Regions from separate parts of the Homo sapiens genome. Here regions 1 and 3 are each linked to region 2. Evidence: fine-mapped expression QTL. A gene starts in region 2. Each other region holds a variant in brackets. All regions are shown on one strand. Distances are from middle to middle.

Region 1 (5,324 bases), 25 kb after region 2:
CCCCAGCCTTGTCTGACTCCAAAGCCAATGCTATTTCCACCATACCCAGTGTCTCCCAGAGCTAATTTTGCGGCTGGAACTGCAACCCGCAAAGCTATCTAGGACAGGCAACTCGATGAAAGAGAATTAGGAGGGAATCCTAGAAAAATGGGGCTCGGCAGCTCCCGGGGAAGCCTGGAGAGGAGGTGGCGCCGAAGCCTCTGCCAGCAGATTGGGGTGGGGCTGTTTTCAGTCCTCTCTGGCGAGGTGTTTTGAAGCCTCCTCTGGGAACCGTGTGCCTCTGTCCAGGACTGGCTGTCTCTCTGGAAATCATACCCTGGCAGCATTTGGCTTTGGGTGAAAGGAGAAGAGAAGATTCTGGCCATTCAGAGCAGGCCCTTGTGCGGGATGGAACCCATTTTCCAGAACTCTTGGGACAGGGACCAGGGTGGCAGGCAGGGGCCCGTGGACTGCCTGGGGGACCTGGTGCTTGGGGACTTAGAGATTTGTTTTCCTGCTGAATATATTGCTTTCTCGTGCCTGCTTTGTGCAACCACGTGAGGATGTGGGGGTGAGGATGGCCGACAGGACACGGGAGTCCCTCCCGACAGGGGCCAGGCGGCGGCGGGGGTCCGCATGTCTCACGTCAGCATGGCTCTGTGTTTTCACTCCTCTCCAGCACATATTTAGTGGAAATGAACTCATTTTATTATTAAAAATTAAAGTCATGCATTCATAGGGTAAACAAGATTGAGAGCATGTGGAGGTGCACTGTGAAAGTGCAGTTCTCTCGGAATGGGCACTTAGAGACGCGCCTGTTCTCTGCAGCTGCCGCAGGGGTCTCATCTTGTTGGGACAGAACACGGTTGATTCATGCAATTGGCTGTTGATCAACATCAGGTTGTGTCTAGTTTTGTTTTTTTCCCGTTTCGCACGGTGCTGCGAATTCACAGCTGTGCCAGTGTATCTGAAGGTAAATCCCACGAGTGGGCCTTGGAGAGTCAGAGGATGGGGCCTTCTACGTGGACTTGGTGTGGTTGGGTGTGTGATGCCTGCGTGGGGCTATGTGTTTTTAGCCCTTCCTTCTGACAGGTTCTGGAGGCCTCCTCTGTGCCTGCCAGCCATGCAGCCGCTGAGCCGAGCATCACCCAAGGCTTGCCTGAACCTGGCCTGGGTCCCAAAGGAACACTGCTCTGGGGCATGGAGGTTGGCTGGTTGAGAACTAAAGCCACATCAGCAGGGGCACTGCCCCCACCTGCTGGGGTCAGCCCCCGCCCGGAGTTCAGCAGGACCTCCGTGAGCCTTCGTGCAGGTGGCTCATTGCAGCACGTCCCCTTGGGGTGGTGGCCATTGGCTTGTGGTTCCTTTGCTCACTGGGGGGAGGAGGACAGCCAGGCACAGGTGAAAGGGGCTTGCGGGTGACGATTCTAGTCCTTGGCCCGGGGAATGTCCCTGGGCTTCTGAGGCCTCACCTCCCTGGGTAGTCAGGAGGGTTACGAGGGTGGGGCCTGGCCCTGGGGACTCCAGGGTGTGGCAGCAGTGGGAGTGAGGAAACAGCCCTGAGACGGAGGGAGAGAAGGGCGATCCAGATGGCGGTGGCCTCCTCACCCCTCGGCCAGTGATGCATGGTAGTGGTTTTGACGGGCTGACCTCGAGGGTCTGCCTGGGAGCCGCTTGGAACTCTCTGGAGGTGGGGCCGGCCCTGGTGGGGGCAGGAAGGTCCCAGAGCAGCTTGTTAAGTGGGCTGAGGACAAGTGTCAGGAGACCTGGGTCTGGATCCCGCTCCAATACCCCTCTCCGTGTGACCTCCAAGGGATCCACCTGCCTTGGCCTCTCAAAGTGCTGGGATTACAGGTGTGAGCCACTGTGCCCAGCCTGTGCCCAGTGTACCCATCAGTAAAGCAGGGATCAAACAGTTCTTAAATCCTGCAGCGGTGGTGAGAGCCACCTGAGGAAACGATGCAAAGGGCTTTGACGGAGTCTGGCACAGAGAACGCACCCAATAAATGACTGCCGTGACGATCTTTCTTCTCGCCCTCAGGTGGTCTCTGGAAGCTCCTCTGTGCGGGGTTTTCTCATTTGCCAGCTGTGCATCCCCCGGTCGTAGTGCGGCTCCCACGGGGGTGTACCAGGAGCCTCTGCTCCTCCTATGCTTCCTGAAAAAGGGCCCAGAGAATATTTCCATCAGGAATAA[C/G]TGAGTGAATCCCAGAAACTTCCTATCACATTTAGGGTGATTAGGCAGATGCATACGATTCTCACTGTGGGAAAGGAGCTGGCGACCTCGATGGGTTGTGGTTCCCGCAGGGATGTGCTTGCGCTGCTGTTACTCCAGCCGTAGCTGAGGCACGGGAGAAAACGGAGACCCCGAGAAGTTCAGAGGCTTGTGCAGGTCACGCTGTTCCTACGAGGTAGACCCTGACTTTGACCCCAGGCTGTGTCCCTGCCAAGCTTGGAGCCTCTTTCTCAAAAGGGCGACGGAAGGATGTTGTTACAGATGTGGTTGCCAGTTTCCTCCTTTTCATTAAATCACCAGGGAAATGGTCTCTTGCAACCCCCCTAAAGCAGGGGGAAGGAGGAGGACAAAGGTCAGGTCACCATCTTTGCTGGCATGTGAGTGGGGTGGGGGTGGGGGTGGGGAGCTAGGAGACCTGGCGCTGGGCCCTTGAAATATCCACATTTCCACAACATTCTGGGTGTCAGTGAGCCCCTGCCTTCCTCCCTCACATTTATCCGGAGCTCTTCCTCCGCAGGGAAGAACAACAGCCCGAGATGGGGTTATTTCAAGGGGATTTCCATGGAAACGGGAGGGTGGGAGGTTCCTCCCAGCACTTGTATAATGGGAGTTGGCTGAGGTGGCAGCGTGTCCCCACGGAAGGGTGCGAGGGACCTTCTCTGCACCGCAGGCCTCCTCAGAGTGGGAGGCACCGACCCGAGAGTGGCTGGCTCCCCTTTCATGCTCCCACCCTCTCTACCCAGCTCAAGACCCCGGGGCTCCTTGGTGAGAGTGAGAGCCAGGCCAGCTCCCCAGGGACCCCCAAGGCCTGGTCCTTCCCATGGTCTCTTTTCTCTAGCAGGTCTTTGTCTTGGGCTGCTGCCAGCCACAGCTTCCTGGCAGGACCTCCTGGCAGGACCTCTGTGCTTTGAGCCGCTGTTGCTCTGCCAAGACCTTGCCCCGCACCGTGGTCTGAATCAGCCCAGCACCCCTTCGCCTCTGTTGCAGTGCTCACATTTATCCCTCACTCCTCCATCCAGCATGTTTTGTTTTTTTTTTTTTACAAGCAGACACTTTGCTTTATAAAAGAATTCTGCTGTGAGCTGCCGTATCCTCTCTGAGCCTCCCTTTTGTCATCTGCTGAATGGTAACAGCAGCGCCTGCCATGCCTGCTTGGTGAGGATTCCATCAAGCAGGGAGACAGTGGGCCGTTGGCGGGGAGTCTGAGCAGGTGTACCAGTATTTCCAGTCAGCTGATGGCTGATGGACATGTTCTTGGAGGCAGGGAACTCGGAGGCCTGCAGACGTGCCCCAGGATGACAAGATTCATCAGTTCCTACAAGCCCTGCCTGGGCCTCATGCTTTTCAGTGTGTCCTGGGCTTTCCCGTGTGAAATCTTACCTGATTTTTATGCCACCTTGAGAAGAGTGATATTCATCTCCGTTGTACAGATGAGGAAACTGAGGCTCAGGGAGGCAACGTGATCTTTGCAAGGATCCGTCTGTTCCCCCCGTGGCCTGGCTGCCCCTCCTGGCAGTGCAGGTGGAGTTAAAACCATACAGGAGTTAAAATGAGCCTCGATGGGGGTGGGAAGCTACGACTGGAAAACGTCCGATGCTCTCCCAAGTCAAATTGTGCTTGGTGTCTGTGGGTGTGTCGGTGTGGGGGAGGGAAGCTCAGCCCTTTTGAAAAGTGGGGGGTGGTTTGACGACGCTGCAGGGGCAGCTCCGAGTTCTAGAGTCTCAGAACGTGGTTCTAGGCGGTTCATGTGGATCAAGTGCTGTTCTGAGCACTTTAATATCCAGCGTGACCATAAGGATAAGTGCCACTGTTACTGGCTTTTTCACAGATGAGGAAACTGAGGCACAGAGGGATTAGGTAAAGTGACTGGAGTCACTCAGCCAGGATGTGAATCACAGCCCACACCCATGTGCACCAGGAAGCCTTGGCTTTCAGGGTCCTTGGAGGGTGTGCCGGGCAGTCGCCTAAGCTGGGAAACCTTGGGCTTGTCTCCAGGCCATGTGGCCATGTGAGATAGGAGTCCTCCTGTGTTATGTTCTGCGACACTGTGGGCAGAGGGCTGAGGACCCCAGCCCTCCCTTAGAACATCATGTTGGTGTGAGACATTTAGAGCCAGGCCTCCCTGCTTAGAAAGCACCTCTTGGGTCACTTGCATTAGTGAAGTTATACATTTGAAACTCCATTTATTTATTTATTTATTTAGAGACAGGGTCTCTCCTTGTCACCCAGACTAGAGTACCGTGGTGCCATCATAGCTCACTGCAGCCTCAAACTCCTAGACTCAAGTGATCCCCCTGCCGGGGCCTCCCAGAGTGCTGGCATTACAGGCATGGGCCACAGCACCTGGCTGAAACTCCCTTTTCATGAAAAGAAACAGCTTCAACTTTGCAATCTCATCTGTCTGTCTATGAGGCTGTGCCTTTGTGTGAGATGAGAGCAGTCACTGTCACTTGCTCTTTGAATATTTGATTAACAGGTAAACAGCCTGAAATCCATTTGACATCTTATCCTTTTGCAAACTTGGCTAAATTCTCTTAAATTGGTTCCAGTTGGATTAATTAAATGCATGGTTGCTTATACATGTGTGTGGAAATGATTCTGGCAGGTCATGTCTTAGCTAGATAGTGAACATAAGCGTCTAGAATATTCTCAGCTGTTGCAGAGACTGCCAGGAATGACCTTGAAAAAGTTTGGGAGAGGGTTTTTTTTTTTGTTTTTATTTTGCTTTTGTTGAGACAGGGTCTCACTCTGTCACCTAGGCTGGAGTGCAGTGATGTGATCTCAGCTCACTGTAACCTCTGCCTCCCAGGCTCAAGCGGTCCTCCTGCCTCAGCCTCCCGAGTAGCTGGGACTACAGGCAGGCACCAACATACCCGGCTAATTTTTGTATTTTTTTTTTGTAGAGTTGGGGTCTCACCATGTTGCCCAGACTGATCTGGAACCCCTAGGCTGAAGGGATCCACCTGCCTTGGCCTCTCAAAGTGCTGGGATTATAGGCGTGAGCCACTGTGCCCAGGCTGGAGAGGTTTTTGGATGCACTGGGCCATGGATGTGAAGGTGAACACATGGAAACGATCCCTGCCACCTGCTTGTGTGTCCAGTGGACATGTCT
Region 2 (5,324 bases):
AAGACCACCCACTGCAGGGTCCCCAGCATGGCTCAGAAGCTGATGAAAGGGATGATGTACTGTGTCAGGCCAGAGTGGGGCTGTTTTCATTGTAGTCCAGGACATCCCGGGAGATGAGGCTGATGCCAGCATAGGGTGGGTGTTTTGGCAGGATTGACAGATAGGGAGAGGGGACTTCTCCATGATCAGAGAGGGAGGCTGAGGAACATGCGGGAGGGTGGGCCTCAGCATGATAACAAGAGAGCTCCCAGGAGGCCTGACCCCTGCTGAGCAGGACTGGCCACCCCAACCCAGTGGGGCCACTCCTGCCATCACATCCACTTTACAGATGAGGTTGTGCCTGGGCCCCCTTGTGGTCAGGACTTGAACCCAGCCTGTCTTTCTCCCAGCATAGCCATTTTGCTGGCTCCAGCTAGAGAGGTGAGGGGGTGTGGACAGAGAGTGGGGGGCTGGCCTTAGGATGTGAGGTGGGGGGCATGTGAGCAGACAGGTGAGAGAGAGAGAGGAGAACATGCCAGGTGGGTGGGGGCCAATGTGGGTGTCGGTCACTTTCCTACGGGGTAGAAAGTGACAAAGAACAAGCACATCCTTCCGGCCCTTGCATTTACCTGGTCCTTGAATGGAGTCTGCACAGCTGGGAGATTTTGGCTTGTTCCACAGTGAAAAGGTAGAGGCTGGAACAGGGCAGGGCACTTGCCAAAGCAGGTGCTGGCAGGGCCCCAGGGCCTCTCCCCAGGCCAGCCCTTGCATGACAGCCTGCAGAGTGCTGGTGGGGCTGCTGGGGGGCTTTCATCTCCTCATAGGTCCATTCTGGGGATTTCAAAGGCACGAAAGCTGTAGCTTCAAAAACTCCCTCTCAATCTCCAAGAAATCTGAGACGGCATCACCTTCCCTCGTCTTTCCCACAGCCCCAGTCTCCCTGCCCCCAACGCCTTTGGACTCTCCTACCTCCACTGCAGTTTGGGGAGCTGTCTGGAGTTCCCCCAGAACCATTTGAAACAAGTGGAGGCCATTACAGACCAGCCCCCACCTGGAGCATGGCTCCACTGATGCCTTAGACCCAAGAGCCCCTGCAGCTCTGGTCACCCCACTGCACTTACCCCTCCCAGGCAAGCCACAGAGTCCCTCGCTTTCCAGGAAGGCTCTGTTGAGCTCCTAGGGAGGGCTGATGGTTCCTCACCCACACCTCTGAATCCCCACTGGGGCTTGTGTCCCGTGCAGGGGACTGTGATTCATTAGGCGGTGGGTCACGGTGGAGGAGGTGGCAGCTTGGCAAAACAGGAGGCAAATATTTTTTGAGGGCCCACTATGTGCCAGGCTGATTACCAGAGGGAGGTTCCTGTTTGGCAGAGCCCTGGGTTTGGAGGGGAGGGAGGGAAGGGAGGAGGGGGACGCATTTTCCAGCCTGGTTTTGGAGGTACCTAGCTCTGTATTTCTTTAACTTTCTCACTCGTCAGGAGAGGTGGGCATGAGGAGAGATCTCAGAGCCCTGCCTGGGGGAGGCCCAATCACCCCTCCAGCCATTTCATCCAGTTTTGCCTTGTCGGCTGCTGGACCCCCTCCACCAGCTTCTTCACATGTACTTAATGCTCCCAACGGGCCCCAGAACTTGCGCGACCCACCCTCTTCTACTAATGAAGGGAGACAGTGTCCTTCCCCTCCCCCGAGTCCCCATTCTCCAGGTGCGCCCTCTTCAACTGCGACCCCACTCCTTCCTTCCTAGTCCTTTCTGCCTTCTGCCTGCGAGGCTGCTCTCCTCCTGCCCCCTTCCCAGCACCCCGGCTCTTGGCCTTCTCTCCCATAACTGGAGCACCTGGGCACCCAAGGTACCCTCCCCCCAAGCTCAGCTGATCACCCTCTCCCCGCAAGCTGGCGGTCTCCTTCCTCCCTCCCCCGTGGCGCACCCAGCACCAAGGTGCCCACCGCGAGGGCCCGAGCACGGCGGTGCAGCCTCGGCTTGGGCGCCGGCTCCACCTGCAGGGCCGCGGGGGCGGAGAGCGGGCGGCGCGAGGGAGGGGCCTGCGACAGCGGCGGCGGCGGCGGCCCCAGCCCGCGCAGCCCGGCTCGGCCCCGGCTTGGTCGGCGCAGCGCAGCGCCGCGCGCGTCCCCTCGCCGCCGTCGCCGCAGCCAGGCGCACCGGCACCAGGCCCCGCCGCCGGGCGCACGGACGCAGCGCGCACGGGCCGGCCGGGATGCGCGCCTGGGCCCCGGCCCGCCCGAACCCGCGGCCGCCGCCCGCCCACCGCGCGCTCGCTTGACCGCGGCGCCCGCCCCCGGCCGCCCCCGCCCGTCCCCCTGCCGCGATGCCCTCCCTTCGGGGCCCCGGCGGCCCGCGCCCCTGCTAGGCTGCGGCGGCATGGCCCGCGCGCCCGGCGCGACCTCTGCGGATTGCATCGGTGTGTGGCGGCGGGGCATGCCCAGAGCACCGGGCACGGCCTTCAATGGGCGAGGACACGGACACGCGGAAAATTAACCACAGCTTCCTGCGGGACCACAGCTATGTGACTGAAGGTAACGTACGTGTTGTCTGAGACCCCTCCGGCCGGCCGCGGCGTGGGGATGCCGTCGCACCGAATGCCCTCCGAAGGTTTGGACCGCGCGATGTGTGTCGTGTCCCCCCGCCCCACCCCACCCCACCCCATCCCACCCCACCCCACCCCATCCCATCCCACCCTGCCCGGGGCCCAGGAGGGAGGGAGCCCGAGGGTACCGGCCTCCGCTGCCCAGCGCCGGCACAGGGCAGCGCCCTCCTCCGCGCCGCCCTCCGGGAGGCAGCTTTCCTCTCCCAAGCCAGGTGGCATCCTGATTCGGCCCTGACCATAATTTTTTAAAAGGCCACGGCTGTGGCTAATCTGGTGAAGAAATCTCGGGGAAATTTAATGGTTTAAATCCTGGATTTGCCATTTCAGCCCTGCCCAAAGCCCGCAGAATTTTCTAGGCTGCCCTCTCCCTGGAGAAGAAGAGGGACCCGGGGGGAAAAAAACATAATCCATTGCCAGATCCTCCTGGGAGGCCCGCCTGCCCGGGCCCCTCCCTGTCCTCCAGAGGCAGGGTCCCTGAGTGGGAGGGAGAAGGCGGCTGGTTTGGGGCTGGCCTTTTTATTCCTGGTGAGTTATATTGAGACAGGAGCAGCTGGGCTAACTGTCGGGATTTTCCAAAAAAGTGGGACATGCCATCCCAAACAGGCCCTGTTTAAAATCCCCTAAGTTGGCCCTACAAGCCCAACCCCCACCCCCACCCTACCCCCGAGGCTGGTGGGTCAGCGCCCCTCTCTTACAGGCCTGGAACTTCCGGGGGCCCCCTGGTCTGCCTCGCTAGGGGAACAGTGGGGACAGCTTCCGTGCGCAGGCAGGGCCCGCGGAGTGACCCCGATGGAGGATGGGGACCGGGAGGTCTGGGCTCGGGGCCGCCTGTGCTGGAGCCCTGCCCGAGTGCGGGGACTGTCAGCCGCTAACCCACGGGCTGGCGGCCCGGCCGCAGAAGTGTGCGCGGATTCCCCGGGTGGGTGCCCCAGTGGGAGGGGCCCTGGGCACGGGTCCCGCGGGGCAGGTGCGCGTGGGTGCCTGTGTCAGGGAGACCGAGTGGGCCAGGCGGCGGAGACCGGGCTCCTGCGGCTGGGTCCGCCTCCTCGAAGCCTGGCTCTGCCGGAAATGAGGCCGAGCGGAGCCGGAGCCCCGCGGAGGCCCGGGGAGCGCAGCGCGAGCGCGGGCGCGGGCGGGCTCGGGGCGCCCTGGCCCGGGAGGCAGAGGCTGGGCGTGGGACCTGGGCGGAGGGAGGCTGCGGGGGCCGCGCCCGCTCCCGGCGGGAGAACCGCTGAGTCACGCACGCTTCGCCGCCGGGTGTGTGCGAGAGAGGGGCAGGGCTGCCCGGGCCTCCGGGCCGGTGGGGCTCTGACCCGGCCGCGGCTTTGGGAGGCCCGGGGAGCTGAGAGCGGTCCTTTGTCGCCTGCTTCGGCGAGGCTGAGTCGGGATCAGCGTGGGTCCGGGATGTGGTTTCTGCTCGCAGCCTGCAGCGACAGAGGGTTGGAGGAAGCCGCCGGGTTGCTGGCCCGTGCCTCGGTGGCCTGGCTCGGGCCGAGAGCGGATCTTGGCAGGTTGCCCCGCTGCTCCCAGGCTCGCTGTGGTCTGGCTTCCTGGAGCAAGCCTCTGTTTGCTCATCTCTACGTTGGGGATGACGGTGGGATGGGGCGCAGGGCTCGTTGTGGGACCAGGCGTAAAAAGCGCCATGGTGGACATTTTCAAACATTAATTCCCTCTGCACCCTGCCCGTCCCCTTTTCTTTCATAAATTCACCAGCCCTCAGCAGGGCACAGGAACGGGGACGGCACAGTTCTGGAGGTCAGAGCAGTGCTATCCAATCCTTCATCCAGACACGAGATATTTACCGAGCACCTGCTGCATGCCGGGCACTGTTTTATCCCTGGGGACTGGACAAAGACTCCCTGCCCTTGTGCGGCCTGAATTCTATCAGGGAGCTATATGACCTTGAGGTCTGTCTTCTCACCAGGGCTCAGTCTCCCCATCTGTAAAATGGGAGTGAATCCTGCCTACAGGGTCTGGAGGTTTCTGTGAGGAGCAGGTGCAACGGTGTTGAAGGAGCCGTTCAGAGCTATGCATTGCTAACGTGCAGCCAAAGGATGCTGAGCACCTGCTGTGTGCTGGGACCTCATACGAAGGCTCACCTACGCCTTATCCCCACCTTGAGATGAACAAACCAAGGCCTGGCCTTGTGCCTGGTCCAGACCGAGTGCCAGTGTGTGCAGGGCATAGGGCTCAGGTGCTGCGGATGCAGAGAGCAGGATCGGAACAAGAAACAATAATAATCATTATAATAGGTAGAATTCTGGCCTCCCTAATGAAAAACACACTTTCACACTGTTGCATCCTGACTATATTTCATGCTCAGAGCACAGGGAAGGTCACAGATTTGAATGTCAGAATGTCAGACTTGAATCATGTTAAAGTCCTGCCTCTGACTCCTGACTGCTGTGCAGCCTTGGACAAGTTACTACACCTTCCTGAGCTTCACTTTCCCTTTGTAAAGGGAGAAATAATAACGACCTTTCATACAGGGTTGCTGGGATGATCAGTGATTTTGCTAATATCAAAAGTGCCCAGCACAGTGCTTGGGTTGTTGGAGGCATTGAACACATGGCATTGTTATTATTTATATGCCTTGTAACTGGAAGAGCCTGTGGGCAAACAGTGGATGCTAAAATTCAGTTTGCGGAAGAACCAGGTGCACAAACTCCTGTTCTACCTGTGGTTGAGTCTACACTCCCCCACCACACCCCAGCTGCTCTGATCTACCTCCTGTTCCTTGAG
Region 3 (5,000 bases), 22 kb before region 2:
GGTAACTGGTCCTAAATCCCATGACTGGTGTTCTCATAAGAGAAAAGAGAGGGGGGTTAGGGAGATACAGAGGAGGAGGCAGAGACTGGGGTGATGTGTTCACAAGCCAAGGGGCACCAAGGAGTGCCGCCATGGAGAGCCGGGAGGGGGCCCTGGGACAGAGTCTCCCTGAAGCTTCTGGAAGGCACTGGCCCTGCCAACATTTTGATTTTAGCCCTCTAAGATGCATCCAGAACTGTGAGAGGACATGTTTCTGTTGTTTTAAGCCACAGACTTTGTGGTAATTTATAATGGCAGCCTGGGAACTCATACACCACGCAAAAGTTATCCAGCAGGAGAAACTCGGAAGGGCCAGCCGAAGAGCCTCCTCTCCCTCCCGGCAGCAGTTCTGTTTCAAAGCGCCTTGGCATCTTTTAGCTGATTTTCACCACATCCCCTGGAGGAAGGCTCAGTGACCTACTATCTCCATTTCCAGGTGGAGAAAGTATCCTCACCTCACTGTCACCCTCGTGCAATGTTGCTTTCTCTTGGAATCACTGCCAGAGCATGGGATGAACCCAGACCTGATCCCGTGCCTGTTCCCTCACCAGGAGGACATAGAGTGTGGGGGCGGGCAGGGACATGGCTCATCCCAGGTGGGATCCGGCAGCTGTCACACTCATCCCCAGGTTGCGAGCCCCTCTGCATGCCAGGTACTGTGCCAGGCACCGGTGATCTGGGAGTGCCCGGGACACTGTTTTCGTGGGTGCTGGTCTGCATGGGCCCCAGGCCTGCCCCAGCTGCTGTGTTCTGGGGCCAACTGTCCTTCCAGCCTCCTCGATAGCCATATGGCATTCCCTGTGCCGACGATGGCTTGATGTCACTTGGGTGGACCCAGGTGTGGCAGACATGCGAGTGGCAGAGTGGACCAGGCTGTGTGGCCCTGATACTCACCCCACACTGTGGCTCTCAGCCTGAGGACTTCATGCTGGCTGTGGAGGCCACGTAGCCCCTTGGCAGGGCAGGCTGGATGGGTAGGAGAGGCAGGGCCCTCAGCTGTGGGATGGGGTGTTGGCAGGCTGTGCCCACCAGCTTGTTGGCCTCCCCAAGTTGCTCTTCCTCCAGCAACCTCGCTGCGTGGACAGCTTCCCCTGTCACAGGGACAGCAGAGTCCTCCCAACAGTATGTTCCTGGGCCAGGCCACCACCATCCTGGTCTCAGGGCAGCCTCTGGACAGGGCAGCCAGGAGAGTTCTCTGAATAAAACCCTTTTACTCAGGTTTCCCCTTGCTTCCACCCTGGCAGCAGCAGCTGGGTGCAGTTGCATGAGCGTTGGCCCCAGGCTCTCCAGCCACACTCCAGGAAGGGCCAAGTATGGCCTTCTCCCTTCCCATGCATCCCTGACCTGTGTCCCAGGATGCCTGTCTGCCCTGCTCCCAGCTGATGCCTCCCTGTGCCCGGGGCTCCCACCTGGACGGCGTGCCGCGTGTGCTTGGTGCCCTGGGTGCTTGCTGGCCTCCACCTGGGCTGTGAGTGTCTGAGTTAGGGGCTGGGTTTGTGTCACTCCCTCTTGTATTCTGGGCATCTGGCACCCGTGTGGTCCAGGTGGCCCTCCGTCTCGGAGACCAGTGCTTCGGTGTTACATTCAGCTCCTTGCCCCAGTAGGATGCAAGCTCTTTGAGGGCAAGGCCTGGCATGCGGGAGGTGCTGTGTTCCTGTCTGTTGAATAAGTGAATGAATGATTGAATGTGTTAGAGGGTCCAATGTGGGGAGAGTGAGGGATTCCCCTGGACACCCCGGGGAGGGCCTTCACACCCATATTAACCCACCCAGCGGACCAGGTTGACGGCGATTTGGGGACCTATGGTAAGGAACCAGGATCTCCTGCGTCCCCTGTGTTTCTAGATACTGCAGGGCTGGTATGGGCCCCCTGGCTGTAGGGCTGAGACGGAGGCATTCAGGCTAGACCAATGGGTCCTGCCCCAGCCGTGTCAGCAGAGCCTGCCTGATCCTGTCCCTGGGTGTTGGCCAGAGTGCCAAGAAAGCACAAAAGACTCAGGCGGAAAAATCAGACAGACCCTAAGGTGGTTTAAAAAATGTGCAAACCCAGGTACGCTGCAGGCTCGAAGCTGGGTGTAGCCGAGGCGTGGGGCAAATGAGCA[T/C]GTTTGGATTAAAAAAGGCCAACGCATCTAACAGCCAGGAAGGTTTGCTTTAACATTCCAGCATGTTCTGTTGATTTATGGCTGTTGCTAGGTAACAGAATACACCGAGGCTGTGTGATTTTAAAGCTACGGCTCCCGACTAAAGAGTCGACAGAAAGAGAAAACCATTAATCAGGGTGGGGGCTGGGCGTGGATTTAAATGCAAACCAGAAGACAGGGAACTGTTGGGAGCAATGAGGGCGAAGCCAGGTCCACCCCTCCGTGTCTGCCGTCCTTCAAGGGTGTGTTCCGCTGCGGGTGTGGAGAGCTGGCTACAGACACGGGCTTCTCCTTCAGGAAGGCACTGGCATAAATTTATCTTTCATTTTGCACTAGATCGATCTAGTATGTGTCAGATTTCTAACACAGCACTGTTAGTGTACCAGATGTACGGAGTGTGTCATCTTGATGGGCAGGATGCATTGTGCCATTTTTATGTTGCACACAACTCCCACCTCTCCCCAGCACCATGCCTTTGCTAAGCTGTGCTGCTACCTCCTGTGTGGCCTGCTTGGGATAGGACAGTGAAAAAGACAGAAGCCCCCAGACTCTCCTCCATGTCCACACGCCCCCCACCCCAGCTCCCTGAAGCTGACATTCTGATTGAGGGAGACAGACAATAGTCCTGATAAACAACGAATTTTAAAGCAAAGCCCAGAAAGGGGGACCAGGAGGGGTGTGTGTATGTGCGCGCGCGTGCGTGTGTGCTTGTGTGTGGGTGGGTGGATGGCAGGCGTGCTGGTTGCAATTGCAGGTAGGGGGAACCTGGTTGGCCTCATTAGGAAGGTGACATTTGAGTCAAGTCTTGTGCAAAGTGAGGGGCCGAGGCTTGCAGGTATCTGAGGGAAGAATGGCCCAGGGGAGGAAATAGCAGATGCAAAGTCCCCGAGGCAGGGTATGCATGTTGAGCTGGAGGAACAGCTGGGAGGTTGGTGTGTTGGAATGGAGTGAGGAGGGAGACTGGGGAGGGGAAGCAGATCCTATAGGGTCCCCAGGCCACTGGGAGGACATCATTGTCTTGGCAGGTCAGAATCCTAACCCTGAAGTTCAGTCCCATACCTGGGGCCCATGCCTTTGACAGGCCTCCCTCCTGCCAAAGGCTGGCTTGCTCCTTTTGGAGCGGTATGCACCTGTGTCATTGCTGTGTGTTCTCCAAACCCCAGGTCTCCTCTCTGTGGTGTCTCTTAGTTTGCATTCCATGAAAGTAGTGCCTGAGCCTGGCATGTGGGTGCAGGCAGTTTATTTGGGATGAGATCCTAGGGCACATCATTCGAGTCCCTGCTGTAGGGATGAGGGCTCCAGTCTACTGAGAATTATACAGAGGGCTCCAGAACTGATCTCTAAAAAACAGCAGTAGTTCTCCAGGGATTATCAGTTCAGATGGGTGGGGGGTTGGCGTGGGGCCACTGACTTTCACTCACACTTGAGCATGCGCTCCAGGCCCAGTGGTGTGGGCAGAGGCCTTGGAGTGGAATGCAGAAAGACGCCAGAGCACTCGGGGGGAGGCTCTTATAGCATCCCCTACCCCATCAAGTCTTCAGCACCACGACCCTGGACAGGCTGAAGACCAGACCTCCCTGTCTGTGGGGTTGGCCATGGGTAGGCAGGGGCCCCGGCTGACCCTGTTGGAGTCCATCCTGGGTTTTTGGATTGCAGTGGGTGGTGATACCTTCTCTGGCTCTGGCCAAGGCACTGTGGGACATGTCCTTGGAGCTGCTACTGGCTGTGTCCACCCCATGAGAGAAACAGAGAGGAGAGGCAGAGAGGGTCCCATGGAGTTTAAGCCCCAGGGCCCACTGTCAGGGCCTGGAATTGTGTCCCCTTTTTTGCTAAGCTAATTTAGGCTGGCTTTTTGTCACTTGCAATCAGAGGATCCTGATTAAGCCTCCTTATTGTCCCTGGTGTTACCGGTCCCTGGAGGACAGTAGTTTACTCAGGCCCTGCAGCAGAGCCAGTGGATGGAGCCCGGCTGTATTAGTCTGTTCTCGCATTGCTATAAGGAACTACCTGAGACTGGGTAATTTATTAAGAAAATAGGTTTAATTGACTCACAATTCTGCAGGCTGTACAGGAAATATGGGTAGTAAGCTTCCCTCAGGAAGCTTATAATCGTGGCAGAAAGCCAAGGGGAAGTAGGCACATATTCACATGGCCAGCAGGAGAGAGAGAGAGAAGGGGGAAGTGCCGTATGCCTCTAAACAACCAGATCTCATGAGAACTCACTCAGCATCACCAGAACAGCAAGGGAGAAGTCTGCCCGCATGATCCAATCACTTCCCACCAGGCCCCTCCTCCAACATTGAGGATTGCAATTTGACATGAGACTTGGGTGGGGACATAGAGCCAACTTATATCACTGGCCCAGTTCCAGCCTGGCCCCCTCCAGAGACCTGCCCCATGATGGCCTGGCCTTGCCACCCTCCTGTTTGAACCAATCATCACTTCTTTGGTTCTCAAGGCCTTGTGGGTTCTGATAGCCCCACTGGACTCAACCCTCTGGTTCCCCAAGGGAATACCTGGACTGGTTCCACCACCCTACATGGCCCCCTGGCTTGGCCCACCATGACATACCCCAGTAGCCTGCCCCATCTTCCATGCAGAAGCTCATTGGCCAGCCTGTGCCACCATCATGCAGGAGGCACAGAGATGTTGGGGAGGGGCAGGATGAGGGGCTGACCACCTGAGCCACTTACTGGCCTCCTTGATCATCCATTCATCCACAAATTCACCCAACAATACAAATTCCTGCCACACACCAGGCACTAGGGTACACAACACAGTGAGCAAAACAGGCAAAAATCCCTGTCCACAGAGATGACAT

Alleles and levels. Positions count from the first base shown, and alleles are read on the strand shown. Sizes are in standard deviations (SD) of each study's normalised expression. Not every link is listed here.
For the expression in esophagus muscle of the gene that starts at base 2,057 in region 2, allele C in region 3 goes with a lower level than allele T (moderate effect, 0.64 SD a copy in GTEx).

What was found.
Region 1: its variant is fine-mapped to the expression of PPP2R2C in left ventricle (GTEx, PIP above 0.99).
Region 3: its variant is fine-mapped to the expression of PPP2R2C in esophagus muscle (GTEx, PIP above 0.99). The same link has a PIP of 0.9 or more in unexposed skin.

What each region holds. Positions count from the first base shown.
Region 1 is chr4:6,444,809-6,450,132 of GRCh38, reverse strand. All of the region lies in intron 1 of PPP2R2C (protein phosphatase 2 regulatory subunit Bgamma), which reads left to right. Among named protein-coding and RNA genes, the nearest start is that of PPP2R2C, 25 kb to the left of the region's middle. The variant C/G (reference allele first, on the strand shown) is at 2,174.
Region 2 is chr4:6,469,347-6,474,670 of GRCh38, reverse strand. PPP2R2C (protein phosphatase 2 regulatory subunit Bgamma) reads left to right here and starts at 2,057. Exons shown (of 9, transcript NM_020416.4): 1 at 2,057-2,511. The coding sequence starts at 2,442. RefSeq lists an enhancer at 3,748-4,578.
Region 3 is chr4:6,491,112-6,496,111 of GRCh38, reverse strand. It overlaps a transcript of PPP2R2C not described here. Among named protein-coding and RNA genes, the nearest start is that of PPP2R2C, 21 kb to the right of the region's middle. The variant T/C (reference allele first, on the strand shown) is at 2,141.